Regions from separate parts of the Homo sapiens genome. Here regions 2, 3, 4 and 5 are each linked to region 1. Evidence: fine-mapped expression QTL. A gene starts in region 1. Each other region holds a variant in brackets. All regions are shown on one strand. Distances are between the middles of the regions.

Region 1 (6,120 bases):
GTTCTCCTTCAAAAATTCCAAGGTCTTCTACCACACCTTAATAAATAACTATTAAGTGCTTTTTTACTAACTAATAAATTCAGGATCCCAGGACTGGGTGAGCTCATTAGGAGTAATTCAGATGGATTTGAGCTCTTTAAGCAAGAAGCAAGTAAGAGATTTGGTTATGCTGGTTCATTGATTCCTCTTCGTCCAATGATGCAAAAATGCGTGTTTCCTCTTCATCCATCCCAATGACAAGGAGCTTTTAAGTGTCAGTTAACAAGACAGTCCCGAAACCCCTTTGCAGAGTTAAAAAAGGGTAATTTCTAAAATTTGGACCAATTACCAATTCAGGCAATTCAGCAAATTTCTAATAATTACACCACATTTCAGACTCTTTCATAATTGTCATGCTCATTTTTCCTCTTCTGTCCACAGCAAGCCCCATCCTCTCACCCAAATTCCTTCCCCCATCCCTGACACACATTTCTTCCTAATGATAATGCTCTTCTCTCTGTCTGGAACCAAATGCATGCAGTGGTCAAGTAGAAATGGGAAAAGCTGCCTTTCTCACTCTTGCCTTGGGGAAGAGGGAAATTAGTTTAAATAAATGATATGCTAATTTGAAAAGAAATGAATCGAACAGTGGAGAGACAGAGTCCATTTCCTCCACTGGAGCAGCTAGTGCCTTTGAGATATTCTGTCACATGCGGAATCATTATCCCACCTGTCTGAATTGATGTCTTGTTTTAGTCTTCAATACCTGCCTAATAATGCCTAGAGCTTACATCTGTCGTTGAATGCTTACTATATACTAAGCACTGTCCTAAGCATTTTACATGTTTACTCCCACTTAACCATCACAATCCTTTGGGATAAGTACTGATATTAACCCTACTTTAGAGCCAAGGAAATTAAGCCTTAAAGAGATAAAGTGACTTGCCATTAGGGACACAGCTCATAAATTGCAGGGCTGGGACCTAAGCAGTGTTGGCCTGGTTTCAAAATTCACACCTTGGTCCCTGACTCACACCATTCTCATGAAGTCTCTTCCAAAACCTGGAGGCTGTTCTAGATCTGGCCTCCCAAGAGCAACTCTCACCATCATTAATTGCTCCGACTGCTCCTCCAAGACCTACCTCTGTAAAGCTCCTCCTTGAAGGGCACAACCTCATCTCTCTTCCACTCCCAGGAAGGCAGGCTGGAAACCTAATAGAGACTCCCTAAGAAACCTGCATTCTATCTTTCCCTGACCATTCAATTTCCGTACTTCCACCAGAGCCCAACTTCTATCAGACAAACTCCATGCTATCTGCATGCTAACTCCATGGATAATCTGCATGAAAAGGGGGGAAAGAGACAAAATCATGTTACAAAACTTGGGCAAGGGTCTAGACTCAACTTGCTTTGAAAGATCTTAAATCTTCCCATTCATTTGTAGACAGCAGTGGGCCTTTTTCTTCCTCTGCTCTGCACGACCTTCTAGCCCAAGTGCTAGTATCACCTTTTCCTAAAGACTTTTAAGACAAACTGTGACCATTTATGTCTACATGACACAGTTTCAGGATAACAAAGTGTGAAGACACACAAAGACGTCAAACATTTATCAGAGACCTAAGCGAAACGCCAATAAATGTTACAGGGATCAAGAATATGGTTACTGACATTGAATGTATCCTGTGGCTTTGAAGAATCCAAAGGATGATTCTCGAATAATGTATCCTTCCAAATTCTCCAGAAGTTCTAAGTTTAGACATCATAATGAAATGTCACCACGTTCCTCTGCCAGAAGTTGTTCAGTACTGAGGGGCTAATGATGCTTTCGCTTAAAGCCGATTCCCCCAATAAAGGGTGCCAAGGCTTTTCTGAAGCCCTGCTTCCGGCTGGCGACTTTGAAGCTGAGACGCAGGTTCACGCGCAGTTTCCGAAGACCTATTCCGTCCCCACCCTCCTCCCCTTCCTCGGAGACACCTCCACTTAACACTGCCTTCTCAGTCCCTCGCCGCCTGTTTAAACACAACTTCCACCCCTCACAAATCAGAAAGCTGTAATTTCAAAGTTTCAGAAACGTTTTCGGAAAGCCTCCTCCAATGGGAAGCGACTTCGCCGCTGAGTTAAGCGTCCGAATCCTCCTTCCCGCGGCAGGGACACCGGCCCGGGCCAGGTCTGCGGAGGACGCCCCCGGGCGCGCACACACAGCCCGAGGACGCGCCCTGTATTTTAAGACGCAGGGTCGGATTTCACCCCGAAACTTGGCTCCCACAGCCCCAGGCCGAACTGTGTCTGGTTCTCAGCCCCCGAGCCCGAGTTCTACGCCGCAAAGAGATGGGGCCCCATTGTGCCTAGCTGGCCTCCTAGCACGGACGTGTATTTTCTTTTGGTCTGTCTTTTGCTAAAAACCGGCAGTGCGCTTCGCCTCCCTGCCCAGCCGCAGCCTGCCGTCCCCTAGACAAAAAGCGGCGACCGCGGCCCGGCCACCCGAGCCCCGCCGCGCTGCGCCTTTGTTGGGCGGTCCACAGATGGTGCCCAGCACGGGGCCGCGCCGAGGGCGGGGGCGGGAGGCCGCGAAGAGGGTCGGGCGGGAGGGGAGGAGACGGCGGAGCAGCCAATCCGCGCGCGGCCCATCAGCTGACCGCCTTTGCTTACACCAGGTGCACGCCGGCTGCGGGGAGCACAAAGCGGGGCGCACCGCGGGCGCCGGCAACGAGCCGGTGAACGAGGCGAGGCCCGTGCGCCCGCGGCTGCAAGCGCCCGCCTGGCGGGGAGAGGGGCCGACGGCGTCAGCCCGGGCGGCGGCATCCCTAGGCGCCTGGGGCGCCTTCCTCCGGACCTGGCCGCTCGCTGCCCCGCCCTCTGCACCCCACTTCTCCGACCCTCCTTCCCAGTCCTGCCTCCCCCTGCCCTGGCCTCTGAGAGCCGACTGAGCCCAGCCCCGTGCAGCAGCGGTTGCCTGTGTCGCCGCCTAGTCTCCGGTCTTGGTGCTCTCCCGGGGGTGCCCCAAGGAGCCAGTGCGCGCTGCGGGCTGGGAAGGAGGCGCCGCTCAGCTAGTCCTCCTCCTCCTCCTCGTCTTTCTCCTCCTCCTGCTGCTGCTGCCGCCGCCGCCGCCGTGGGTGCCGGGTCCGCGCGCACCCCAACACCCCCACCAGCTGGGCCTCGGGGTAAGTCCCTGGCCGGCCGCGCCGCGGCAGGAGGTGTGGGAGGCAGCGAGGGGAAGTCGAGGCAAACTTGGTGGCGTGGGAGACCCTACGGGGTCTGGGGAACCTCAGGGTAAGATCGCGGGCCTGAGGGGGACGAGGGGGCGCGGCTCACGGAGCTGGGGAAAATGACGAAGTCGGGAAACGAGAATATAGTGCCCCGTTTCCCCCCGTCCCCCTTGCCAAAAAAAAAAAAAAAAAGGTGTGGGAGAGCGATAGTTGGGAAGGCAGGCCAGATAGAAACAGGCAAAAAAAGGCAGTGACCGGAGCCGAGCCTGCTGGATTTCAGGGGCCGACCAGGGGAGGGAGGTGCCCGGGGACGGGGAGGGAGGAGGGCTGCCGGGATGTGAACCGGGGAAGGCAGCTGGGGCTGGAGAGCAGCGCGGAAAGGGGGCCCAGGGAGCTGGAAAGAGGGCCAAGAGGAGGGCAAGGAAGGTGGCGGGCGACGGGGAGAGGAAAGAAAAAGGGTGTCTTGGCGGTGGCCTTGGTAAGAGAAAGGGGCAAGGGGTATAATTGACAAGGCACTGAAAGTATTGAAGTCAGAGCCTTGGGAAGGATCTACCGAACTCTCGGCGGTCCACGCGGGGACAGACCTCAGCCCGTGAGCCTTGAGCTCCACGCGGGGACAGACCTCAGCCCGTGAGCCTTGAGCTCCACGCGGGGACAGACCTCAGCCCGTGAGCCTTGAGCTCCACGCGGGGACAGACCTCAGCCCGTGAGCCTTGAGCTCCACGCGGGGACAGACCTCAGCCCGTGAGCCTTGAGCTCCACGCGGGGACAGACCTCAGCCCGTGAGCCTTGAGCCCAGAAGGAGTGGCAGCCTCAGGACGTTTGCCAGGTGGCCTGGAATGTGAGGGAAGCCTCAGCCCCGCCAGGAACAGAGCTGGCGCTGAGTTCCCGGCTCGGCCCGGGTCAGAAGCGAGGAAAGTTTGCCGGCGAGTGTCCTTTGTGCTGCGTGGAGAGGGGTGTGGGCGGCCGCCGACTCGGCGCTTCCCCGCCGCCCGCCCAGGGAGTCCCTGCCTGGCAAGCTGGGGCTCGGGGAAAAGTCCAGCAGCGAGAGGGCCGCGTGTCCCGGGACGGTTCCAGGGGAGCCCGCGCGGAAACGCGGACCAGGCGCTTCGGCCCGGATGCCGGATCCAGGAGAAGGGGACCTCGCTTGCCGTGTCCACCGCCGCGGCCCCAGCGCCAAGAACAGAGCCTGGCCGTGAGTGAACGACTGGCCGGGGTACAAATGGTTCTGAAGCACTTGAAGCTCACAGGCAAAGGCTAAGAGTCTAAATCCCATCCCGCCGTAAGTATTTTCATTCCCAAACCTAAATCGTAAAGGAAAAGTGGAATTCTAATTGGGTGAGGGAACAGGTGCTGCCGACTCTGGCTTTTGCGTGGAGGATTTTCTAAAAGACAACATGTTTTGTTTTGTCTTGCCATGACAATCTAAATCATGTTAGTGGAATAGGCTCATTATTTCATTTTTAAAAGCTAGGGCTGGAGGAGTGGAAAGTTCAGGAAGGCACTTTGATCAGTATAAATCTAGAGTAAAAGTGTTATTGGCTCCAGGGCCATATGTGTCCCGAAGTCTCTGATTTGCATGCAAATGTGAGCGGATCCTGGCAGATGTCTGGCCTCATCCATTCACATGAAGGAATTTGAAAAGACAAGGAGTCTTCAGTTAACAATAGACCTTAAGAAAAGAGAATAAAGACGCAGTGTGAGTTTTTCTGTTTGGGAATTCCATGGTTTGCTGACACCTTTATTCAGGAGCCAAATTCTTTAAGTGCTATTGTATTGAAAGCTCAAAGTGCTGCTTGCTCTTTACCTGGCTGTATATATTCGTGCAATATTCAAGCTGGATATTCTAAGCTAGTTAGGAAAAGGTTTGTGTGAAGCAGACAGTAACTTTAACCCACTTCTGGCGGCTTGAAGTGATTTCTGAATTGACCCCTCAACTTTTCGAGTTTTCTTTTAATAATTTGACTCTTGCTCAAATTTGGTCCTCATCTTCAGAGCTATTCATTATAGTAGAAGATCGTTGTCGTTGACCGACATGAAGATTTCCTGAGAATGTCCACTGTCTAGCTGAGAATGTCCACTGTCTAGCCAAAGTCATTTCGGTTCTTAAGGCACCAAACTGTAGAACTGCAGGTGATGCAACTGTCCCAACCCTAGTTACCCGAGTGGTTTTCAGGTCACATAACAGTGAACGGGGAGGTAGTCGTGCAGTAGACTCTGGAGCAAGGGCCTTTCTGCCGTGTCTAACATTAGCTGCGTGACCACACTGCACTGTTCACCTCTTGGCGTTGTGCGACAGCTGAACAAAAGGCAGGCAGTGTGGGCCGCACGTGAGGCAGGCGATTATATTAATACCTACGACTAACCAGCCCCAGTGGCCTCTTCTTTTGTCAACCTCAAACACTGTTGAAGGGAAAAAGAACCTATTCACGGAACAGCATTTGCCCCAGTATTCTATATATTCACTGAAAGGGACATTAAAATACAACACCCCCCCAACCCCCGCCAGAAAAAAAAGACAACATTGTTTTGGAGGGCTCAGTGTTTCGGGGGAGGGGTGGACAACAGATGTTAGTCTGCTATTTTACATGTTCCTTTAAGTTATTTTTGCAGGTTCAGTGCCTTTTATACATAAGGCAATATTTTCACAGGATGGGGAAAAATGAATTGAATCAAATTTAAGTAAGAAAATGTTATAGCCAAGTTTGCATTTTGTGTCTTAGAGCTATATAGAAGTCAGAAAGTAACAAATCATTCTAATAAACTCTTAATTTGACTCTACACGCCTGATGTCTTCCTGATAGAGTTGAAGGGTAACTTAAAATAAACTTGACATTTCTAGACTATAAACCATTTTGTTGTAAAGTTATCTAGATATTTTTGAAACCTGGTAAGTTAAAAATGACCCTCACATTTGTGAAACCTTATCTTTGGC
Region 2 (6,120 bases), 38 kb after region 1:
AGTTTACAACAACGACTATCAGTGTTCTCCATACTATTAGAAGTACAGTCCTTAGCATTTTTGGGTCTAATCATATTAAGCAGCCAACTCCAGAAACCCCAAAACCAATGAAAGAACTCCATCCTTTAATATTCTGTTCCTTTAGAACCACTCCTGGTACCAAAATCTGTATTAGCGTTCTCTTAGAGGGACAGAACAGGATATATATATATATATATATATATATATGATATATATATTATTATACATATTATATATCATATTTTATATACATTATATATATAATATATGTAAAGGAGAGTTTATTAAGTATTAACATGCATGATCACAAGGTCCCACAATAGGCTATCTGCCAGCTGAGGAGCAAGGAGAACCAGTCTGAGTCCTAAAACTGAAGAACTTGGAGTCTGATGTTCGAGGGCAGGAAGCATCCAGCACAGGAGAAAGATGTAGGCTGGGAGGCTAGGCCCATCTCTTCTTTTCATGTTTTTCTGCCTGCTTTATATTCACTAGAAGCTGATTAGATTGTCCCCACCAGATTAAGGGTGGATCTGCCTTCCCCAGCCCACTGACTCAAATGTTAATTTCTTTTGGCAACACCCTCACAGACACAACCGGGGTTAATGCTTTGTATCCCTCAATCCAGTCAAGTTGACACTGGGTATTAACCATCATACCCAGGCCCTAGGCTGAATATTTTTACATAAGTACTTTTTTGTTATCATAATTTACATGTATGAACCATATATACTTAGCCTTAAGTTTAGCTATGGAAACTGAGGCACAGAGAATTTAAGTACAGATGCTTCTCAGCTTATGATAGGGTTACGTCCTGATACACCCATCTTAAGTTGAAAATATCATTATGTTTAAAATGCATTTAATACACCTAACCTACCAAACATCATAGCCTACCTTGAATATTGTCAGAACATTTACATTAGTTTTATTGGGCAAAATCATCTACCATAAAGTCTGTTTGCTAATAAAGTGTTGAATTTCTCATGTAATTGAACACTGCAGTGACAGTGAAAAATAGGATGCTATCATATAGGTACTCACAGTATGGTTTCTACTAAGTGTGTACTGCTTTCACACCTTTGTAAAGTCAAAAAATTGTAAGTTGAACTATCGTCAGTTGGGGAAGGTCTACAGCTTGCACAAAGTGACACATCTAGTAAGTGGAGAAGCATAATTCGAATACAGAACACTTGATTCCTCCAGGGTAGAATTCTTTCTCCAACCCCAGAGCTGCCTGATTTTTTTTTTTTTTTTTTTGCAGTAACAGAAATACAAATAACTAGCTTGTTACTGTGAGTATATATTTCTTTTTGCCCAACTTCATAAGAAGTTAATGCATATAAATCATAGAGCTAAGTCCCACCGAATAATGTCATTCTGTTAAACTAATATCCTATCTGACACAATGCTATGGGGAAAGTGAGAGTCTCCGCCAAGTGCAGTGATGGTGATGATCATGCAGTTCATTTCCTTCAGAATTTTATACTCAGAACAGAGTGTCCCAAACATATCGTGTTGGAAAAAAAAAAAGAAGCATCAAATGTAATGTATAATTGTTTGTGGGACTCTTGAAATGCATCCCGTGCCAATTCTGGGCCTTAAAGCCATGTTTTGTTAATTAAAGGATTGTTTCTTTAAACTGCCAGACTTCTTTGTGGAACATCACCCTGGTAATTAGCAGGACATTTTCTTCTTACATTTGATAGATCTAGTCAGTCAGCCCTAGAAGAAAGCAATTTCACTTAAAAAAAAAAATCTATTCCAGCCATTTCTTATTTGTTGCAGAATTTAAGATAATTAATTTGTATATGTTATAAAAGTTGGCCTGAATTATTATGGCTTCGCTTTTTTTGTGGTAAAAACACTTAACATTAAATTTACCATCTCTCAATTTTAAGTGTACAGTTCAGTTGTGTTAAGTATATTCACATTATTGTGTAACAGATCTCTAGAACTTTGTCATCTTGCAAAACTAAAACTTTATTCCTATTAAACACTAATTCCCTCTACCTCCAAGCCCTTGGCAACCACCTTTCTACTTTCTGTTTCTATGATTTTGGCTACTTTATATGAATGGAATCACGTACTATTCACGCTATTGTGAATGGCTTATTTCATAATGTCCTCAAGATTCATCCGTGTTGTAGCATATGACAGGACTTCCTTTTTAAAGCTGGATAGTATTCCATTGTATGTACACACCACATTTTCGTGTGTGTGTGTTTGTGTGTGTGTATGTAGTAGTGGTTTTTACTGATTGGCACAAGATCACGGCCTGTGCTTCCAATACCCTTCCCTCCTATGCAGCTCAAATGGAAGGAAACTGATTAACACATAGGAAGCAATAGCATGCTTACAGGTTTAAACTCCTTTCGTTTTTACAAAAAGGAGTGGGATATGGGGGGTGGTACAATTTTAGGGGTAGTAGCAAAACTCTCCCTAGACTACAGTGGGTGGGCCTGTCTGTCCCCTGTTGCTGGTACCACATAAGAAGGTTCATCAGTAAAGGAAAAAAGGGTTACATGTGGTTGGCCTGCTATTAAGAGGGGAAGATAGGATGGTATCTGCTGTGTACCTGTGTTGGGCCAAACCTGGGACTGGACCAGTGCCCCTTTTTTCTTGGCCCACCTACACAACCCAGCTGTACTGTCTCCTGCACCCATGGGAAGGAGGTGTGAAGGAAGCTGAGAACATCCGCCTTGAGAAGATGAAACAGGAAACCTCACTTT[C/G]CTTTCACTTTCTCTGGACTAAATTCCACTCCCCTCAGCTCTGGAAAGCACTGCAAAAGTCTTCCTTAGGAGTGCTGTGAAGACGCTGGGGAAGATGCCGGCCCAGGCAGGTGGCCCTGAGTGTGCAAAAAGAAAAACTTGACTTTCCATGCAGTATCAAGCAAGGTTACTTTGTAAACAAACAAAACTGGAAAATAAGACTACATACTAAGTCCTTGAGAGCATTTGGATTGGGGGCAAGGGCTTTATTACTCCTTCCCCCCCCCATTTTATAACCCCACACCAAGTGTCAAGAGCTTTAAGGACCACAACCAACCCCACCTTCCCTTCAAGCACCATTCCTTGGGTTCCTCAGTTTTGTTGAGCTCATTTGGGGTTATTCCTGCCACCCTCTTAAAAAATGACTCAGCCTGCTGGTTGGTCCATTTTCTACCCTTTCTACAATTATGAAACACACTCTCTAAATAGGAGATACATAAGCCCTCACTCTATAGTCCAAGGAACTAGGTGATATAATGCCAGGAAGGCTAAATTGTTTGCTTTCCTGGGTAATCCTGATGTGAATGGACAGCAGCAGGGTTCTGGTGGGATCAGAGCAGTCTAGTTTGAGCCACCGCACCACATTTTTTTTTCTTTTTTTTTAATTAATTTTAATTTTTTTTTTTAAAGCTCCAGGGTACCTGTGCAGGATGTGCAGGTTTGTTACATGGGTAAACGTGTGCCATGGTGGTTTGCTGCACCTATCAACCCATCACCTATGTATTAAGCCCAACATGCATTAGCTGTTTTTCCTAATGCTCTCCCTCCCCTCACCCCACCACCCAACAAGCCCTGTGTGTGTCGTTCCCCTCCCTGTGTGTCCATGTGTTCTCATTTTTCAGCTCCCACTTATAAGTGAGAACATGTGGTGTTTGGTTTTCTGTTCCTGCGTTAGTTTGCTGAGGATAATGGCTGCCAGCTTCATCCATGTCCTTGCAAAGGACATGATCTTGTTTCTTTTTATAACTCAGAAATAAGACCACCCATCTACAACCATCTGATCTTTGACAAACCTAACAAAAACAAGCAATGGGGAAAGGATTCCCTATTTAATAAATGGTCCTGGGAGAACTGACTACTCATATGCAGAAAATTGAAACTGGACCCCTTCCTTACACCTTATAAAAAAACTAACTCAAGATAGATTAAAGACTTAAATGTAAAACACAAAACTATAAAAACCCTAGAAGAAAATCAAGGCAATACCATTCAAAACATAAGCACAGGCAAAATCACCAAAAGCAATTGCAGCAAAAGCAAAAATTGACAAATGGGATCTAATTAAACCACATTTTCCTTATCCATTCATTTGTCAATGGACATTTGGGCTGCCTCTCCCTCTTGGCTATTGTGAATAATAATAGGTGCAATGAACGTGGGTGTACAAATATCTCTTTAAGATTCCGCTTTAATTCTTTTGGATATGTACCCTGAACTGGGACATAATCGTATGGTGATTATATTTTCAATTTTTTGAGAAATCACTATATTGTTTTCCATAATGGTTGCACCATTTTACATTCTCTACAACAGTGAACAAGGGTTACAATTTCTCTACATCCTTTCCAATGCCTGTTATTTTCTGTTGTGATAGTGTCCATCCTAATGAGTATGAGGTGATATTTCATTGTGCTTTTTATTTGCATTTCTCTTATGATTAGTGATATGGAGCATTTTTTCATATGCTTGTGGGTCATTTGTATGTCTTTGGAGAATTGTCTATTTAAGCCCTTCACCCATTTTTTAATAAGGTTATTTTGTTGTAGGAGTTTATAATATATTCTGGATATTAACCCTTTATCATATATATAATTTAAAAATATTGTCTCCCATTCTGTAGGTCATCTTTTTTTGCTGTTGATTATCTCCTTTGATGCACAGACCTTAAGTTTGAAATCATCTCATTTGTCTTCTGTTGTTGTTGTCGTTGCCTGTGTTTTTGGTGTCATATCTAAGAAACCATTGCCAAATACCCTGAAGCTTTTTCCTTATGTTTTCTTCTAGGAGTTTTATAGGTTTAGGTCTTATGGTTAGGTCTTTAATGCATTTTGAGTTAATTTTTGTATATGGCATAAGGTAAGAGTACAACCTCATTCTTTTCATGTAGATATCCAGTTTTCCTCACACAATTTGTTGAAGAAACTGTCCTTTATTGTATAGTCTTGGCACCCTTGTCAAAGATCATAAAGAGCATGTATAGAAGGCTTTATTTCTGGACTCTGTTCCATTGGTCTGTATGTCTGCCTTTATGTCAGTACCACACCATCTTGATTACTGTTGCCTTACAGTATGTATTGAAATCAAGAAGTGTGAAGTCTCCAACATTGTTCTTTTTCAGGATTACTTTGGCAATTTAAAATCTCTTGATCTTATATGAATTTTAGATTTTTTTCCTGTAGAAATTACCATTGAGATTTTGATAGAGATGGCATTGATTCTGTAGATTGTTTTGGGTGTTATAGACAGTATGACAATATTAAATTTTCCAGTCTATAAACATGGGATGTTTCATCATTGTGTTTATATCATCTTTGATTTATTTTGGTTATCTCTTAACAATTTTCATTGTACAAGTCTTTTGCCTCCTCAGTTCGATTCATTCCTAAGCATTGTATTCTTTCTGATACTTTTGTAAATGGGGTTGTTTCCTTAATTTCCTTTTCAGATTAGTCATTGTTAGTTTATGGAAATATAACTCATTTGTGTGTTGATTTTGTATCCTGCAAATTTGCTAACATCATTTATTAGTTTTAGTGGGTTTTTTGTGGGATCTTTAGGATTTTCTGTATATATGAGATTATGTAATCTGGGAACAGATAATTTTACTTCTTTTCCATTTGAATGCCTTTTATTTATTTTTCTTGTCTAATTGCTGTGACTAGAGTTTCTAGTACTGTGTTGAATAGAAATGGCAAGAATAGGCATCCTTTCCTTGTTCCCATTCTTAGAGGAGAAACTTTCAGTTTTTTGCTATTAAGAATCATTTTAACTGTGGACTTTTCATATGTGACTTTTATTATGTGTAGGTACTTTCCTTCCATTCTTCATTTGTTGAGTGTTTTTATCATGAAAAAGTGTTGAATTTTGTCAGATGGTTTTGTGCATCAATTGAGATGATCATGTGTTTTTACTTCTTCATTCTGTTAATGTGGCATATTATACTGATAGTTTTTCACATATGGAACCTTCCTTGCATTCCTGGTATAAATCCAACTTGTTCATGGTATATAATCTTTTTAATATGAGAAGTTTTGCATCAGTATGCATTAGGGATATTGGTCTGTAGTTTTCTTGTTGTGATAATGGATTTACATTTAAACACTATTGGCGA
Region 3 (6,120 bases), 490 kb after region 1:
CCAGGAATACAAGACCAGCCTAGGCAACATGGCAAAATCCCATTTCTACAAAAAAAAAAATTAGTCATGCATGGTGGCACGTGCCAGTAGTGCCAGCTACCCGGGGGGCTGAGGTGGGAGGATTTCCTGAGCCCTGGGAGGTTGAGGCTGCAGTGAGCTGTGATCAAGCAACTGCACTCCAGCCTGGATGACAAAATGAGACTCTGTCCCAAAAAAAAAATAAGTAAATAAAAAATGAAAGGAGGAGGAGGAGGAGGAGGAGGAGGAGGAGAAGGAGGAGGAGGAGGAGAGAAAGTACAAAAGAAGGGGCTTGCCTTGCTTTTCCATTCTGCTACAGGTGACCCTGGCATCAAGTCTGCATTTCCCACATGTGATTGATCCACTTTAAAAACTATCTTTGATATATATTTTACTCCAGTGTGATATTTTCTTGCCACCAAAAATGTCTTTAAGCTGGCTCTTCCTAGGCAGTCACACTAGCGTCAACAATTACTTCAAATCAGGAAAGGCAAAAAAACTCCTGAAAAAAAAAATAGTACCATAGATTCCAACCCAAAATATAAAGAAGCATGGGGGGTAATTTGTTATTTGGGATTATCTGTGGTGCTTGTAAATGAGAAAAGCTAAGATAAAGGGATTATTTAATACATTATTTTTCCTGTAAACTGAATATCTTAGTAATCAAATGTTACTTCCAATACAAAGATTTAGCTGTTAACTTTGATATGAACTTACTTTATGGAAGATTTGCTAAGCTTTCACCCCCATTTATAATAAAGTCTCTAATAACCGCTGATCATCTTCGTCTCACAAGTAAGATGAGGCTTTCTTCTGTTTCTCAGTAGAAACTATCACATTCCTAGAATTCCATGAGTGCTGTTCTCCTGTCTCTAAGCCACCGAATAAGGCAGCTGCATTATCTCTTTCATAATTCTTGGGTACAATTATAATTATAATAGGCATAACTATAGCCAAATCACTATTCTCCATAAAATAACTTATGCTTAAAGTAGTTTGACTTAATAGTATCTCCTCTTTCGAAATTACTAATAGCAAGGGCTGTATATAATACTTGCATTACTCCTAGGACTATGCTTAGAATGAGTATCTTTACAAAGCACTTTTCTGAAGAGTCTACTCAAAATAATAAAGTGGCTAAAGCTAAATACCAAAATATTAATGATGGTAATGGTCATAAAAAGCTACAGGTGATTTTTCTTTTTTTGTGACTCTCTAGAGTTTATGAATTTTCACAATGAGAATGTATGATTCTTATAAGGAAAAAATGTATATGGTTATTCCTAAACTTTGACAATGAAATTTCCCAAACAAGATTAATCTCTCTACATGAATACAACTTGTATGTAATATTAACAATTCTTCTCTAGTACTTAGTACTTTCTTCCATATATTCTATTTCCTTGTATAGGTATGTAATAGATTACAAGCTCTCTGAGGATGCATTTTGGGCCTTACACATATTTGTCACCTCATACAGTACCTCATAATGCCTCATATTTGCTAAGTGATCAGTACTGTATGAGGGATGAATGATACTTTCAATAACAAAGGTTAAAGTTGATATATTCATCCAAATGCACACAACTGCCAAAATGTTGAAATACTTCCATACTAATGGATAAACACTATAATAGCAATGCAATAAGCAAAAAAAGTTAACTAAAAGTATAAATTATAATTTAAATTCATTAATTCAAGCTAATAGTCGGAGCATGTTGTCAAATAAATCCTAACTAGGTCCCCCACCAAGCAAGAAATTAGAAATACTTGCAGAAATATCCACCTGTTTGGCCCAGAGCAAAGTATGCAGTAAGAATGTATTGCACATTCTTTACAAGACTCCTTAAGAGTATCACTCATTTGTTATATGCTTAAATTATATAGTTACCTCTATTTTCAAATTGTTTAGTTTTTTCTCTGGTTTTTATTGTCAGTGCACTACAATTCTTGTGTAAGTAATAAGTATGTAGCTTTTTAACATTTATAAATGGAAAAATTTATAATAAAATATTAAAAACAAATTATCAGAATAAAAATACTATAAAGTTAGGGCAAGTTTCTTATTGTTCCTTTTGCATGTTATAAACATGAGTTTTCTGCATCTATAGGAAAACAAAGCAAAAACCGTATTAACAAAGAAGCAAGGCTGGGAACATCTTCTAATACAGCACAAAAGCAGTAAAAGTCTAGAAAGTCTTTTTATGCTGTGCAACAATCAGCGCACAGTAAAACTAATTTTAGCTCTGGAATGAAAAACAACTTATTTGAAGAAAGAATATGATTGGTTTATTTTCTGAACAAAATGATGAGTAAAATGGTGCTGAAGGTTTTATTGTTTAAATTTCATTTTCATCACACCAGCAGTCATGTTCTGTTAAAGCCCATGATTCCAAGAGAAAATGCAATCATTAATGAGGAAAATATAAAAGAATATTACAAATAAGTTTCGCAAGTTAAAGCTTATAAAATAATAAGTTCAAAGATGTTTTATCAGTGTCAATAAGGCAAATGTAAAACATTAAGATCCATCATAACACCATCGTAGCACAGAACACCTAACGTACACTTGTAAAACTATGTACTATAGATAAAAATTATGAAGCATTTTAGACATGAAATATTTACACAGAACTTGCAGAACAATGCAATGGGTGTATCACTGCAGCCTGGATTTATGTTTTAGGTTATTGTAAAACCATCTATTGCAATGTTCTCAAAGTGTGGTCCAGGGATGCCTGGGATACCCGAGATCATTACAGGTGGTCTGCAATGTCAAAATTATTTTCATAATAATACTTAAGTGTCATTTGCCTTGTAACTGTCATTCTCTCACAAGTGTATGTGTTTTCCAGAGGCTACATGACATCATGTTTCTCACAGCTAATGGAATGTGTGCTATATGTTCCTGAGTTCTT[G/A]TATGTTTTCAGTTTTAATTCCTAATATGTTAAATACTGGTAGACAGAACAACACAATGCAAAGCTTTCAGGGGGTCCTCAACTATTGTTAAGAATATAAAGGGAACCTGAGACCAAAAAGTTCAGAACCAGCAACTTAACAAAATAAGAAAATAACCTTTCAGAAATTGAGGCAGTAAAACATCAGTTGTTCACAGTAAAGATTCAAAAAACTTAATAAACATTTATTTTCCAAATAGCCATTTAGAAGAATAATGAACATAAATTGTAAAAAAAAAAAATCTTTCACACATTTCCTTACTAATGGGATGTGTGTGCTTGTTGGTCACCGCACAACCTTCTAACTTTGGAATCAGATTGGATGCTGTCACTCTCATTTCTCATTCCACATTGATTTTCACTGGTATTTGCTTAGTATTACAGCAATTACCAAAAACACAGCTTCACAAAGATAGGACCTCACCAAAAGGAACGTGGCACAATCTAATGTTGAAACCATGACCTACCTAGAGCTAGTAATTTGCACAGACATTGAATATCACTGTTTCCCTTGAATATTTAAAATATACTACAGTATTCCCTTTGGAGTCCCAAGGTGCCTCAGTGCAGTTTAGGAACAACAGATTCAAAGAATATAGTGCTTTTCCTTGTCATCTTGTTAGTTCTGCATTAGCTAGTTGTTTGTGCTTAGAAAATTCTATTATTATCAACCAAGCAAAGCTTAAAGTAAATTAGTAAATCTTCCAATATAGGGAAATAGAATATTTTGTAAGCTTTCTGATAATTCACAGATTTGGATAATTAATGCTACTGCTCTGACATCCATACTTCTCTTCTGCTCATCTTTTTAGCTCCCTTTCCTAACTCTACAGTGGTATGAAAAATTTAAAGATGATCCCATGCAAAGGCAAAATAATGACCCCAGAGAGTTCAGGCACCTGCTATCTGCAATCTAGGTCTATGACCATTTAGAACTACCTCACCAGACAACACCTAGGGAAGGTGAGGAATATACAATAATACAAATGAAGTTCTTAATTGCTTCATCACTGGTACATAGATACCAGTTTCCTAATTTCTGTTAATACATCTGAGCAGTAAGCAAACGTACTGACAAGGGAAAAAACTATGCATGGACAGAATCTCCCTGTTGGCACAGCACAAAAATGTCATCAGCTTTAGGCAAAGATTAAGAACCAGAAATTATTATTTTCTGTGTCTTTCTACTTTAAAAAAATTAATATTCCAAAGCTTTTGGATAGATGTAAAAGCATTCTGAAAGAATTACTATCATGGGTCTCTGTCCCTGAAACAGCTCTTCCCGTTGAGCTCCCTTTCCTAACTCTACAGTGGTATGAAAAATTGAATACCCGCTAACCTAGCTTAGTATTGCCATACAATCACCCCACTCAAAAATTAGAAGCTACAAGGCTGGCAGATCACAAAGTCAGGAGTTTGAGACCAGCCTGACCAACATGGTGAAACCCCATCTCTACCAAAAATACAAAAATTAGCTGGGCATGGTGGCATGCACCTGTAATCCCAGCTACTCAGAGTGGAGGCTGAGGCAGGAGAATTGCTTGAAACCTGGGAGGTGGAGGTTGCAGTGAGCCAAGATCGTGTCATTTGCACTCCAGCCTGAACAACAGAGCGAGACTCTGTCTAGAAAAAAAAAAAAATTGAACCTACAAAGCCCTCCATTGTTTCTAAATACAATTTAATTTCTGCCCCCAAAGGAAGATGGTTTCGGAACTTCACAACGTTCTCTTAAACTTCCTTATTATTTACTGTTTTATCCATGAAAATCAAGAAGGACCTCAAGCCCACAGTGGTGTTGTTCTTTCTACCAACTCCATCTCTTTATTCATTATCACACAACCTTTTCTGCTACAGTACATAGCATAATTTGCTCCTGGTGGGCAGTAATGCCATCACATTCAGAGTGAGGGCTATTTTAAACCCTATCCCAGCCAAACCAGAACTGAACAACACTGAAAGCAACTACGAGGTTTCGGGAAAATGGGGAAGATAGTGACAGAAAGGAAGCCTGAGAAACTCAGACTGGAGGTGAAAGAGCAGCTGGAGGCCAAGATAGTCCCACTTGGGGAGGAGCAAGAATCCAAGGATCTCCTCCTTCTCTTAGCACTTACAAAGCTGACTCCAAAATAAATCCTGTATTTCCTGCTCAGTTAAATCTCCAGGACAATCCTATGAGACTGGCATTATCAACCTCATTTTATGGGTGAGGAAAGAGGCTCCAAAGAGCAAGGAACCGCACTGGGCCAGTGTGGTGTAAATCGGTCACACATAGACTGTCTGTTGAAGGGTGTTCTTACATTACTACACTAGCAATTAGAGACCTAAAATAAGATAGGAAGCTCTATGAGTCAGAGCTTAAGCCCTTGCCTTCAAGCAAGTATATATCTTAATTATATCAATTCTGTTCTTATAGATTTCCTACAAGGAACCCCCTCCATACTCACCCTCCATCACCCATTACAGTACTCTTTTCCTTTTGTCAACTGGATCTACCTTCTCTTAATTTAAACCCATTTTCTTTGTTGCTATCATCCAGAAGGGGTAAAGCATCTGGTTGTAGGGTTTCTAGCTAGAGCACTCTGTAAACTAAACGACCATTTAAAATAGCACCTAGCACAATGGCCAACACACAGTTGGTACTTAATAAACACGCTGAATAACTACATGAACAAATGCTAAAAATAAACCTTTCTTTATTATGAATGACTCTAGCATCAAATAAATTGTGTTATCAACAAAAACAACAAAACATTTCAAAACGTCTTCCATAATTGATTAAGTTGCATTTTTGCAACTATTGGCAGATCTAGATATGAGATCCAGGTATAAGGCATAATAGGCAAATCACACATGGCATAATGAGTGGCACACTGTAGCCATTCAATCTGGTGAATGAATTTAAATTATGCTGGGTTGGTTTTTTAATCACAATGAAACTTAAAAGACATACCCAATTTTTAACTCTCAGACAAATAAAACACATTCCCAAGTTTAGCATCTTTAGACAGTATTTTCCATCTTTTGTCAAACATATTCACTCAGTCATTTTACAACTGCCTATGTACTCGTTATAACTTGAACATAAATTTCTCTTAGATTGTGTAAATGTGAGTCTAAACAAATCACAGCAAAGGAAAACGTTTAT
Region 4 (6,120 bases), 150 kb before region 1:
CTGATTCTGGCTGCCTCTTCAGACAGCCTCTGTATCCCAGTTTTCAAGACACGTCTGTGTGTGTGTGTGTGTATCTATGCATATATTTTAAAGTAATCCTGTTTTAACTAGCATAGCTGTTACTTTTATGTGTTATTATAAAACTGTGCTTCAGCTGTCAGCATGCTGTTCTCCCACCATATGTTTCCCCTGTGCTTTCCTGACACTGCCTTTCCCAGGGCCCAGAGATGGCAGAGGGAAGCTCTGAAACACAGCGCAATTCTGAAAAGCTTTGTCTTCTCGCTTATTGCTCTTAAAACTTTCCTTTGCCGAGTCAGGAAGATGCTCCTATATCTCCACCTGTTTGTGCTTTGGGGCATGAAGCCTAGCTCCTGTAACTTGTTTCACAACCCAATGCTGAAATTGCTGTTGCTGCCATTGTATTGTAACAGAAGGGAAAAGAGAGAGTGGGTTAGGATTTTATATCTTCTATGTGGGAAAGCCATCATGTTCCTTTGGGTTTTTAAAAGCCCTTGCATTTGTACAGTGCTTTATGGTTCATGAGGTGTTTTTGTATTTATTATTTTCATTGATGCTGACAACACTAAATGCTTGCCCCATACTTATTTTCTATTTACCAATAAAATGGTGAAGATCAGACATTCAGCAGGCATTATTTGAACACTTACTGTGTGCTGGGCACTAAGAATTTGAGGATGAGCATATTGTTATTATTTATTTATCTTTGTGTATTTATTATTTAGTTATATTTTATAGATGAGGAAATAGACTGAGAGAAATTAATTATCTTCAGTCATCCAGATAGTAAATAGTGGAGTAAAATCCTCAAACTTAGTTTTTTTTCATTTCAGCTTTAGTATAGTTCTTTTATAAACCATTCTAACTTGTCCCTCAGTTAGCTTCCTTTAACTTACCACTTCTCACTTGAAACATCTTTTTTTTTCTAATTTAGCTCAAAGGCTGATAGAATAAGCAATTATGTAGAGTATCTGATAGGCCCCATGTATTAATTATTAATGCTAGCTAATATCAGAAATGAGAATGAATGTCTTTAAAAAATTATAGATTTAATGAATTCAGACTAAAGCATTATGAAGAACAGAAAGGTAGCCCTGAAGGAGAATAGAAGGGTATTAGAATTGTCTTCTGTGCATTTTCCACACTGATGGGTGGATAGCTCTTGGCGCCTTTGTCGTGAAATCTTTGCCCATGCCTATGTCCTGAATGGTATTGCCTAGGTTGTCTTCCAGAGATTTTATAGTTTTAGGTTTTACATTTAAGTTTTTAATCCATCTTGAGTTAATTTTTGTATATGGTATAAGTAAGGGGTCCAGTTTCAATTCTCTGCATATGGCTAGCCAGTTATCCCAGCACCATTTATTGAATAGGGAATCCTTTTATAGGAAAGCTGAATATTATAAATACTTTTAAGAATAGGAAGAATAGAAAGAGAAGGGACAGAAGTTCCCTACCAGATGAGTAGATGAATTAGGAGATAAGAAACATTACTCTTTTCTCCAAATAGTATGATTGGTGTCATTAGCTGTCTTATGTCTAATTAACATATGTACCAAAGGAACTCCATGTAGATAATATGTGAAATCCAGAAGACTGTAGCAGTGACTTCCATAGATATTCTATGTTTGGGATGATAATACGAGCAGTTGACCTAGGCTTGTATATCGATACAACCATAAATAACCAGGTTCACAATGTAAGACATATAGTCATTTGCCAAGGAATAAATTATCAATATGACATGAGAAATACCTGATTAGAGAAAAGTCATATTAATATAATGACCGAAGCCTTCTTGTATGATCAACTATCATAAGACCTTTCTAATTTAGATGTCATTGATTTGCATTTATCATAATTTAAATTGGACCAAGATAGGGTTTTCCAAGCCGAAAGGTAATGCTTGGAGAAGATACTTCCCCATCTTAAAGAGGTTCAAATCATAAAAAGCCCACTTTGAAGAAGTTTTAGGCACTTGAGAAGCACTGATTTCTATAAGGCAGGACATAGAGCTTAAGAGGAATTTATGATTTTTAGTGAAATTTCCTCATTTTATAGATGAAAACACAGGCCCTGGGAGACAAAGAGACCCCAAAGCCACACAGCAGCGAAACCCACACCAGATGATCCCATCACAAATGACCACTTTTTCTACTCAATGCTACCCCTCTTCTCTTGCTTTGGTAATGACAAATTGCTCTTGCCTAGTAAAGAAATCTTAGGCTTGCATTTGGCTACACTCGACTGCCCCATATTTAGCTGGAGACTTTTGCTATAAAGCTATATTTCTTGTTAAATACTCCACAACTCAGAATTTCTGTAAAGCAGGATGGTCTTGCTCTAAGTATATCTGCATTAAGTTAGTTGTTATTGTTTTGTCTTGCCATGTTATATTGTATTCTGGGGTTTCTTTTGTTCGTTTCATTTTGTTTTGTTTTGCTACAGCACAGTGCTTAATGAATGGAGATTTTAAAGATGATGGATGTTACTGCTACTTGTTTATAAAATACTGAATAGTTCTGGAGAAAACTCCCTATTTGCTTAGGTGTTGCTATGTAAATCTCAGAAGGGACACATGGATTTTCCATGTGATTGATATGGTCAATGTTCTCCATTATCCCCCATGCCACAGAGAAACTTGAGAGATAAGGA[G/A]TATAGAGAGGAGGCAAGAAGATGACACAGAATTTCATGCTGGTGTAGCCACTGGGTGGGTTCCTCTTGTCCACCTCCCAAATTGAGCTGATTTATCAAGACAGAGGAACTGCAGTGGAGAAAGAGTTTAATACCCACAGAGCCGGCTAAAGGGGAGACTAGAGTTTTATTATTACTCAGCTCAGCCTTCCTGAAAATGTGGAGGCTAGGAGTTTTCAGAGAGTTTGGCAGGTGGGGAGCTAGGAAATGGGAAACGCCAATTAATTAGGTCAGGGATGAAATCATAGGGGGTTGGAGCAGGTTCTTCTTGCTCTCTTCTGTTCCTGGGTGGGATTGCAGAACTAGTTGAGCCAGATTGCCAGTCTGGGTGGCAGCGGCTGGTCTGTCATAATGCAAGGTCTGAAAACTGTCTTGGACACTGATCTTAGGTTTTACAACAGCAATGTTATCTGCAGGAGCAATTGGTGAGGTTAGGAATCTTATGGTCTCTGGCTGCATGATTCCTGACCACACTTTCTAATTCTGTGGCTAATTTGTCAGTTTTACAAAGGTGGTCTGCTCCCCAAGTAAGGAGGTAGTTTGTTTTGGGGAGGGGCTGTTATACTCTTTGTTTCAAAGTTAAACTACAAACTAAATTCCTTCCAAAGTTACTTTGGCTAACACACAGGAATGAACAAGGGTAGTTTAAAGGTTAAAAGAAAGATGGAGTCAGTTAGGTCAGATTTCTTTCACTGTCATAATTTTTGGAAAGGCAGTTTCAGTGGGAAACGCATGTGAAATGGATTTGGGTCAAGTTCTATTGTCTGCTTATCACTAATCAATTCTTGGAAGCAGGAATTCCTAAGGATGGGGAAACGTTGACCTTCCATGAAACTAACGGGCCACCTTGAAGTCTTATCCATGCCAGTCCTGTTATGTTGGGCTCCTCGTTCTCCAAGCACACTTTTGACTCTCTCTTTTAGCTATGCCTGGAAATATCTCTAGTGGAAATAATTCTGTTTAGTCTCACAGCTCAGAAGTACTTCCTACACTATTTATCCAAATCCTACCTTTCACTACCTAGCTAGAGGAAACCTGAGTTTGAATGCCAGCTGCAGGATTTACTGGGTGTGAGACCAAGGGTAAGTCAGGCAAATCATTGAATTTCTCTGACTCTCATTTCCTGAGCTATAAAATAAGATAATAATAGTAGCTACTTTATAGGTAGTCACTATACAACTTGTGTGTGCATCACAAAAATACAGCATTAGTTCGTCAATGACAAGTGATGTTTTATATTATTCATATTATTTTCTTTCCATTAGAGACACTTCAGTACTTCAGTGAGGACAGCTCACCCCATGTGAGGAAACCTGAGTGAACTGGCACTATAATTTCTAAATCATTCCAGTGATAGCTTAAAATCTGTGGTGAATTAGTGACTAAGGAAGCTGCCCTGTCCAGCTCTGAGAACAAGGCTGTATTCATTTCCCTGCACTGCTGAAACAAAGCACCAAAAACTAGGTGGCTGAAACTACAGAAATGTGTTATCTCGCAGTTCTGGAGGGTGGAAATCTGAAATCACATGTCAGGGGGGCCGAGCTCTTTCTCTCTGTCTCTCTCTCTCTCTGAAGACTCTAGGAAAGAATCCTTCCTTGTAGCTGCTATTAGGTTGGTGCAAAAGTAATTGTGGTTTTTGCCATTGAAAGTAATGGCAAAAATTGCGATTACACTAAGGGAGGAGACCACCCCTCGTATTGTCTTATGCCCAATTTCTGCCTCCAAAGAAAGAAGAAGTAAAAACTAAAAGGCAGAAGTGAAATCCACAGGCAGACAGCCCAGCGCCGCGCCCTGGGCCTGGTTAAACATTGACCCCTGACCTAACCGGTTATGTTACCTATAGATTCCAGACATTATATGGAAAAGCATTGTGAAAATCCCTGTCCTGTTCTGTTCCATTCTGATTACTGGTGCATGCAGCCCCCAGTCACGTACCCACTGTTTGCTCAATCGATCACGACCCTCTCACGCGGACTCCCTTAGAGTTCTAAGCCCTTAAAAGGGACAGGAATTGCTCACTCGGGAGCTCGGTTGTTGGAGACGTGAGTCTTGCCAAAGCTCCCGGCCGAATAAAGCCCTTCCTTCTTTAACTCGGTGTCTGAGGGGTTTTGTCTGCAGCTTGCCTGCTACAACACTAACCAAACATCTTCTGGTGTTTGCTGGCAGTCCTTGGCACTCCTTGGTTTGTAGATGCCTCTTCCAGTCACATGGTATCTTCTCCCTGTGTGTCCTCATGACATCATGACATCTTTTCTCTGCACATGTCTGTTTCTGTGTCCAAATTTCCCCCTTGTACGACATCAGTCATACAAGATTGGAGTCCATTCTGATGATCTCATTTTAATGTGATTATTTCTATATGACTGTATCTCCAAATAAAGTCACATACAAAGTTACTAGGGGTTAGGATTTCCACATATCTTTTTGGGGACACACAATTCAACCCTTCACATGAAACTAACACATGGTAAGTTAATCATTAAAATAAGCTCTTGTTATTATATTACTGTCTGTATTATATTATATTTATTATATTACTGTCAGCTTTGCTCAACATAACAGTATATTCTCTCCATTTTATCCACATTTGTTTTTTCTCCTCAACTGACTGCAGTAAATCCGCTAACCACAGAAGCCATGTGTTATTTATTTACTTTTAGTGTATTAATCCACTGAGGCTACCATAGCAGAATACTACAGACGAGGCGGGTTAAATAACAGAAACGTATTTTCTCCAGGTTTGAACACTGGAAATCGAAGCTCAAGGCACTGGCAGCGTTGGCTTCTGGTGAGGCTTCTCATCCTGGCTTGCAGATGTTCTCCTTTCTGCTGGGTCCCCACCCAGCCTTCCCCCTGTGCACAGGCATCCTGGCATCTTCCTCTTCTTCTAAGGACACTAGTTTTATTAGATTAGTAACCCACTCTTATAATATCCTTTAACCCTAATTACCTCCTTCAAGGCCCTATCTCCAAATACAGTCACATTGAGTTCTGCCTATGAATTTTAGGGGGACACAATTCAGTTCATAACAATGATATTCTTCCCTAAGAAGAGGTCTGGCCATGTGGTGGCAATTAACAAGTTCTACTTAGCAAAACGTTCACATATTCACTGGAAGAAGAAAAAAACGTTCCTGAATATCTGTGTGTGGGGAAGAGAAGGACGGAAGGGTGTTCCTCATAAATTCTCTAGCTGAATTATTTTTTTTCATATATACCACTAGTCTGAAGCACAAATATGTGGATTTCTAGATAAAGCAACCCCACAGATAATCCAAATATTTGTTTCAAGTCAGGTATTCTGCTGAATTCAGAGGAGCATCCCCAAACAAAAATTATGTTTTCAGCTCCTCCCAAAGTCTTCACTTTGCTGATAGCAAGCAATCTGTGAGCTAAAGGCAAACCATAGTA
Region 5 (6,120 bases), 890 kb before region 1:
AAATACAAAAATCAGCTGGACATGGTGGTGCATGCTTGTCGTCCCAGCTATCTGGGAGGCTGAGGCAGGAGAATCACTTGAACCCGGGAGGCAAAGGTTGCAGTCAGCTAAGATTGCACCACTGCACTCCAGCCTGGGTGACAGAGTGAGACTGTCTCAAAAAAAAAAAAAAATTATCTCTTGATAATCTGTATAAGAAAGAAAAAATATATATGTTGGTTCCACCTATTGATTAAATATCAGGAACCTCCAATGCTATAGAGGAGATTCCTTTTAATGTTGGGTGATAGCCCTACGGTCATGAATAAGAGATGGTTAGGAAGCATATATTTAATAGGTTTTTCCCTTGGTTTTATTTTATGTGTTCTGTCTTGGTATTTAATGTGTATGTAACATGTCTATTTAATGGATTTAAACTGCTAAATAATTAATCTGTGTGCTGGGTGATTTACTCACTGGATGGGCAAACGCCATAGAGAGACTTTTATCTTGAGGTCAGTATATTGGTAGGCCTGGTTATGAGTACATCAAATGGAAGTGTCCTTGTCTGTGACTGAACTATGACAATTGGCAGTTTATTTTTTTCCCAAGGCAACTCCTCCTAGATCTTTTCTGCTGTCTTAGCCTGAGTCATGGATGAGATTCACTTGTGGGATATATCCCTGTGGACATCCCTGAGGTGCTGTACAACTCCCTGGGTGATAACCATCATTCCACTCCTCTCCCCCACTCATGAAGGTGTATTACAATTAGAGTAAATAGAGTCTTGTAATCATGGGGAAACTGAATCTTCTATACGTAACTTAAAAAGTAAAGATAACTAAGTTAGGTATTTTGTTGGTGAAAAAATAACTTTTCTAAAGTAATAGTTCTACCCATGTTTAGTATTTGTGTCCACTCAGATGATCATATTGGCGATGGGGACTGCTGATTAAATTGCCAAACTTGAAATCATTGGGTAAATATAGAGGATAGCTAAGGTCTCCAAAGCAAGTCTGAGGCAAGTATTCAGGTATCTGCAATTCACTGAAAGAGTGTTCTCCAGGAAAAACCTGTAAGGAAAAGCAGAATAAGGAAGAAGGAGGAACCAAACAAGGATGGGGTCTTAGGTAAAGTCTAGCCTAAGTCTAATCCAGAAGGGAGATTTCTGGAACATAAACTGTACCTCAGACCCATTTCCACCTTGAGATAATGAGGCTAGCTTTTTAAAAAATCTCCATGTTAATCACTTCCTAAGCTACCTCTTAAGTGGGGTTCCAGAAGTGGTGGGGGTCAAAAATCTTTGATTTTGCTTATATATGTGAGAATATTGTGAAAAAAGTTTTTTGATTTTACAGTGGGAGGAGCCATCCCTAAGGGTGAGTGGGTATCTGCCCAGTGGTCTTTTGAATATGACTTGACTTTTCCAGGACTGTATAATGGAGGAGAAGTAGCTTCTATCCTGAGGAAATTATGTCTAATGGTTCAGTATCCCGGGGGTTCTCCTGGCCTGTGTGGTGGAACACATCTGACCCTGGCAGGACACTCAAATACCATCAAGTAACTGATGGCCCAATTAAAGTGAGGTGCAACCTTGAGCGATTATCTGGTTAATTTGGCATCTACCCAGGTGATTGGCTCCCAAATTAGAAAAACATTAAGGCTAAACTAAAAGTTATTTCATAGGGACTTTCACAAGTGCTCATCTGCATCTGATTTCTCAACTGCCTCGTTGAGCCAGGTTACAAAATAATCAGATGTGCTGAGTGTGATCAGCATCGAATGAGAGGACACATGCCTTTCTTACCCAACTGCAGTCATCCAGGCAAGAGCTTTACTTAAGTTGTCATGAAGAGGGGAGCTGTGCACTTGGCTCTCAAAAGCAAATTTGGTGTCTTTATCAAGTTATTGATCATATACGTACCAGTAGTAGGAGGATGTCATTACTCATCTTACTGTGAAAACTGACAGAATTACACGTGAAAGCCTTTGCAAACCTAAAGGTGTTTATAACAATATAAGAAGGTTTGGGCTTTTTTTTTTTTCTCTTAGTATCCATACCAAACACTTAGAGATAGCCATGAAATCACCAGTAAATCCCAGTTCTGTGCTTCTCAATTTTTGCTGCAGATTACAATCATCTGGGGAACTCTTTACTATCCTGATGGCATACCATACTCGTTATCAACTAATTCAGTCTCTGATCCTAGGACCCAGGCATTTTTCCTTAAAGCTCCCCAGGTGTGATTCCGAAGAACAACAGAATTTGAGAACTATTGCTTTAATTGATCAGGTTTAAAAAGCCATTGAATTTTCCTAAAATATTGATTATCAGGCTTTATCGTGCATCACAGTAATCTAGAGGACATGTTAATACACAGATTGCTGAACTCTACCCTGAGAATTTCTGATATAGTAGCTCTAGAGTGGGGCCTGGGAATTTATATTTCTAACAAGTGATGTTGATGCTGATGCTGCTTATCCAAGACCACCGTTTGAGAACCACTATCCTAAAATAGGAAATCTGTCCTACACAGAGGGCTTTTGTTGTTGTTTTTAAAAATTGAACATAGTCTCCCTACCAAAACATCTGATTTTGGATCAAAAAGCACTCTGAATCCGAAGTACCCCTGTATGAGAGAAAGAGCAGGCATCAGAGATTCCAACCATGGCTGAAGGCCCCATTTCAACAAGAGAGTGAATAGGAATAAAGCACACAGAATGTCTTGACAGACTACCATGTGAGGCTTGAGCTAAAGTGCTGCATGGCATGACTCTGGTAGTTAAAGCCAACTGAGGGGAGACATTGAAAGCTGATAAATATTATGATAAATATTATGATCATCCCTTACATCAATTCCCCCAAAGAAATGCAGTGAGTCAGAGTTTAAAATATTACTCTAGAATGCAGCCTAAGGCATCACTGAGCATTAATACTTTATATACAATCCTATAACCAAAATATCTGAATCTTCTGTAAAACTGCTGTGAAGAGATGATCCATCTTGAAGTCCTTAGTCCTTTTCATAAAAATATTTCCAATAAATTTCTCATAAAATGTAGAACTTCTCTCTTAAAAGAAGAAAAGTTTGCATCTTCTAGTAAAGAGGCAAAGTTTTTCATCAGTCAGTAAGAAAT[A/G]TGTTATTTTTCTCTTTGCCCAGTCTGGGATTAATTTAACTCTATTGTATTAATTCTAGTGAGATTGTTTTCTACCCTTCCCCTGTTTGAATTGAGTCATATTGTAAATGTATTTACTACTTTATGTCTTTTACCATTATCTACCCCAAGTTCTTTGAATTTGTGAATGAATAAATAAATGAAGTAACTATTTTTCCCCCTCCACCACCTTCTGGCAAAATTGATTGCATTTGGGGAGCCTAATCTAAGGAGTATTAATTAGACTGACATTCAAGATTTGGTAGTGGGGGGTGATTCATCAAGATAGTCAAAAGGGAAGCCCCAGACCCTTTTTCCCCAATGGACCAGTTGCCATTGAAAGAAATAAAACCAGTTAAGAGATTTCTGCACTCCAGTCAAGTGTAAAGCCAATAGCATTAAAGCACTGTAGAAAAATTTATGGCACTCGCTTGCTGGAGCACCTCCCACTCCCCACAGCGTAGCACAGAGCTATCAGTAGAAAACTTCCAATTCCTAATTTCTTGCTGGGGAGGGAAAGAAAAGAGTGGAAGGTATATCCAGTGTTTTTACTTTTGAGGGGGAAGTACTACCTAAGGGAGTGGTTTCCGTTTTGCCTGAATCTAAGTGATGACAGAAACTGGGCTATGTGGGAGGCCCCCTGAGAACAAAGTCTTATCAACATGGCTTGGTCTGGTATCAGGCTGTACCACAGACACTAGGGGAGGTCCAGTACCAACAGAGGGAAATTTAATGCTTCCTGCAGCACTAGAAAGTCCACAGTACCTGATAAAGACACCAAGGGAAGCTCCTGAGTAGAAACCAACAAATCTTCAATTAGGGGATTACATACAAAAGCCCAGAGAAGATGCATCATCAGAAAAGGCTTGAGAGATTTGCGGAATCTCTAGCTGGACTGATTGCTCTCAGACTGCAAAGACTAGGAGAAGTGTCTGATTTTTTAAATGCCAGAATTCCAGCAGAAGATAATAAAGCACACAAAGAAACCAGAAGACATGGCCCAACCAAAGGAACAAATTATATCTACAGAAATCAACCCTAAAGAAACAGAGGTATATCAATTACCAAAGAATTCTAATTATTCTCATAAAGACGCTCAAGGAATTAAGAGACAGTACAGATAGATAACTAAAGGAAATCAGGTAAATGATGCATGAACAAAATGAGAGTATCAACGAGATAAAAGATGAAAATGAGCCCAAAGAAATTCTGGAGGTGAAGAATATAGTAAGTGAATTCAGAATATAGTACTCAATTTACTAGAGAGATTCAACAACAGGCTTGACCAGACAGAAAAAAATAATCAGCAATTCAAAGACAGAACATTAGAAATTATTGAGGCAGAGGAGCAAAACGGAAAAAATAAGAAAAGTGAAGAAAGCTGAAGGGTCTATGGGACATCATCAAGTGCAACAATATAAGTGTTATGTAATTTGCAGACAATAAAGAGAGAAAATGGCAGAGAGCCTATCTGAAGAAAAAATGGCTGAAAACTTCCTGAGTCTGAGCAAGGAAATGGATTCACAAATTTTAGAAGCTCAAGAACTGCAGCTAGGATGAATCCAAAGAGATCTACACTGAGACACATTATAATCAAAGTGTCAAAAGTCAGAGACCAAAAGAAAATCCTGAAAGCAGCAAGAGAAAAGCAACCCATCACAAACAAGTGTGCATCTGTAAGATTATCAACAGATTTTTCAGCAGGAACTGCATGCTAGAAGGGAGAGAGATGATCTACTCAAAGTGCTGAAAGAAGGAGCTGCCAATCAAGAATACTATATCCGGTAAAACTGTCCTTCCAAAATGAGGGAGAAGTGGAGACTTTCCCAGATAAACAAAAGCTGAATGAGTTTATCACCACTAGGTTTACCCTGCAAGAAATGCTGAAGGGAGTCCTTCAAGTTGAAATGAAAGGATGATAAACAACACAAAACTATATGAAAATTTAAAACTCCTAGATAAAGGTAAACATACAGACAAATATAAAATCCTGTAATATTGTAGGTACAAAAATCACTTTTATAAAAATCTGGTATAGAATGTTTTAAAAAGTATAAAAGGTAACTATAAATCTATGTTAATAACTGTACAGTATAAAAGGAGGTAATTTGTGTCATCAGTAACAAAGTGGGGCAGCAGGATGTAAATAGTTTTTATACATGATTGAAGTTAAATTGTTGCCAGCTTGAATAGATTATTATAACTTTAAGATGTGCTATATAATTACAGTGGTAACCACAAAGATAATATCTATATAATATACAAGAAGAGAAATGAGCAGTGAATGAAAACATATCATTTTTAAAAATAAAGGAAACACAAGGCTGGGTGCAGTGGCTCACGCCCGTAATCCCAGCACTTTGGGAGGCTGAGACAGGCACATCACTTGAGGCCAGGAGTTTGAGACCAGCCTGGCCAACATGGTGAAACCCCATGTCTACTAAAAATACAAAGTTTAGCTGGATGTGGTGGCGCATGCCTGTAATCCCAGCTACTCAGCAGGCTGAGGCAGGAGACTCACTTAAACCCGAGAGGCGGAGGCTGCAGTGAGCCAAGATCACACCACTGCACTCCAGCCTGGATGACAGAGTGAGACTCTGTCTCAAAAATAAACAAATTAAATAAATAAAAATTAAAACAAATAAAAATCGAGGAATAAAAATCTCCTCTTTTGAAGACAGAAAGAGGAGAAAGGGTAAACACAAAAGCTACAAGATACATAAAACAAATGAACAAAATGGCAATTGTAAGCCCTTCCCTATCTCTAATTATTTTAAACATAAATTGATTAAATGCCCCAATTAAAAGATATAGCTTGACTGAATGGATTAAAAACAAACAGGATCTAACTATATGCTCTCTGTAAGAGACACACTTTAGATCTAGGGTTACACGCAAGCTGAAAATGAAAGAATAGAGGAAAATAATCCGTGCAAACCAGAACCTAAAGAGAGCAAGGGTGACCGTATTAATATCAGACAAAAT

Evidence for each region. PIP is the estimated chance that this variant, and not a neighbour inherited with it, causes the effect. A credible set is the group of variants that fine-mapping cannot tell apart.
Region 2: its variant is the best candidate, but not a certain one, in a credible set for the expression of LRRN1 in whole blood (TOPMed, PIP 0.75).
Region 3: its variant is the best candidate, but not a certain one, in a credible set for the expression of LRRN1 in testis (GTEx, PIP 0.61).
Region 4: its variant is the best candidate, but not a certain one, in a credible set for the expression of LRRN1 in transverse colon (GTEx, PIP 0.68).
Region 5: its variant is the best candidate, but not a certain one, in a credible set for the expression of LRRN1 in whole blood (INTERVAL, PIP 0.70).

Annotation. Positions count from the first base shown.
Region 1 is chr3:3,796,780-3,802,899 of GRCh38, forward strand. LRRN1 (leucine rich repeat neuronal 1) reads left to right here and starts at 2,652. Exons shown (of 2, transcript NM_020873.7): 1 at 2,652-3,140. LOC100130207 (a long non-coding RNA gene) reads right to left here and starts at 4,096. Exons shown (of 6, transcript NR_149025.1): 1 at 3,922-4,096. RefSeq lists silencers at 2,553-2,622, 2,633-2,722, 2,863-2,972, 5,506-5,800.
Region 2 is chr3:3,834,326-3,840,445 of GRCh38, forward strand. The region is part of intron 1 of LRRN1 (leucine rich repeat neuronal 1); the gene reads left to right. Among named protein-coding and RNA genes, the nearest start is that of LRRN1, 38 kb to the left of the region's middle. The variant C/G (reference allele first, on the strand shown) is at 2,751.
Region 3 is chr3:4,284,203-4,290,322 of GRCh38, forward strand. It overlaps a transcript of SUMF1 not described here. Among named protein-coding and RNA genes, the nearest start is that of SETMAR, 16 kb to the right of the region's middle. The variant G/A (reference allele first, on the strand shown) is at 2,937.
Region 4 is chr3:3,642,149-3,648,268 of GRCh38, forward strand. No RefSeq gene overlaps it. Among named protein-coding and RNA genes, the nearest start is that of LRRN1, 150 kb to the right of the region's middle. The variant G/A (reference allele first, on the strand shown) is at 2,671.
Region 5 is chr3:2,907,413-2,913,532 of GRCh38, forward strand. All of the region lies in intron 12 of CNTN4 (contactin 4), which reads left to right. Among named protein-coding and RNA genes, the nearest start is that of CNTN4-AS1, 150 kb to the right of the region's middle. The variant A/G (reference allele first, on the strand shown) is at 3,118.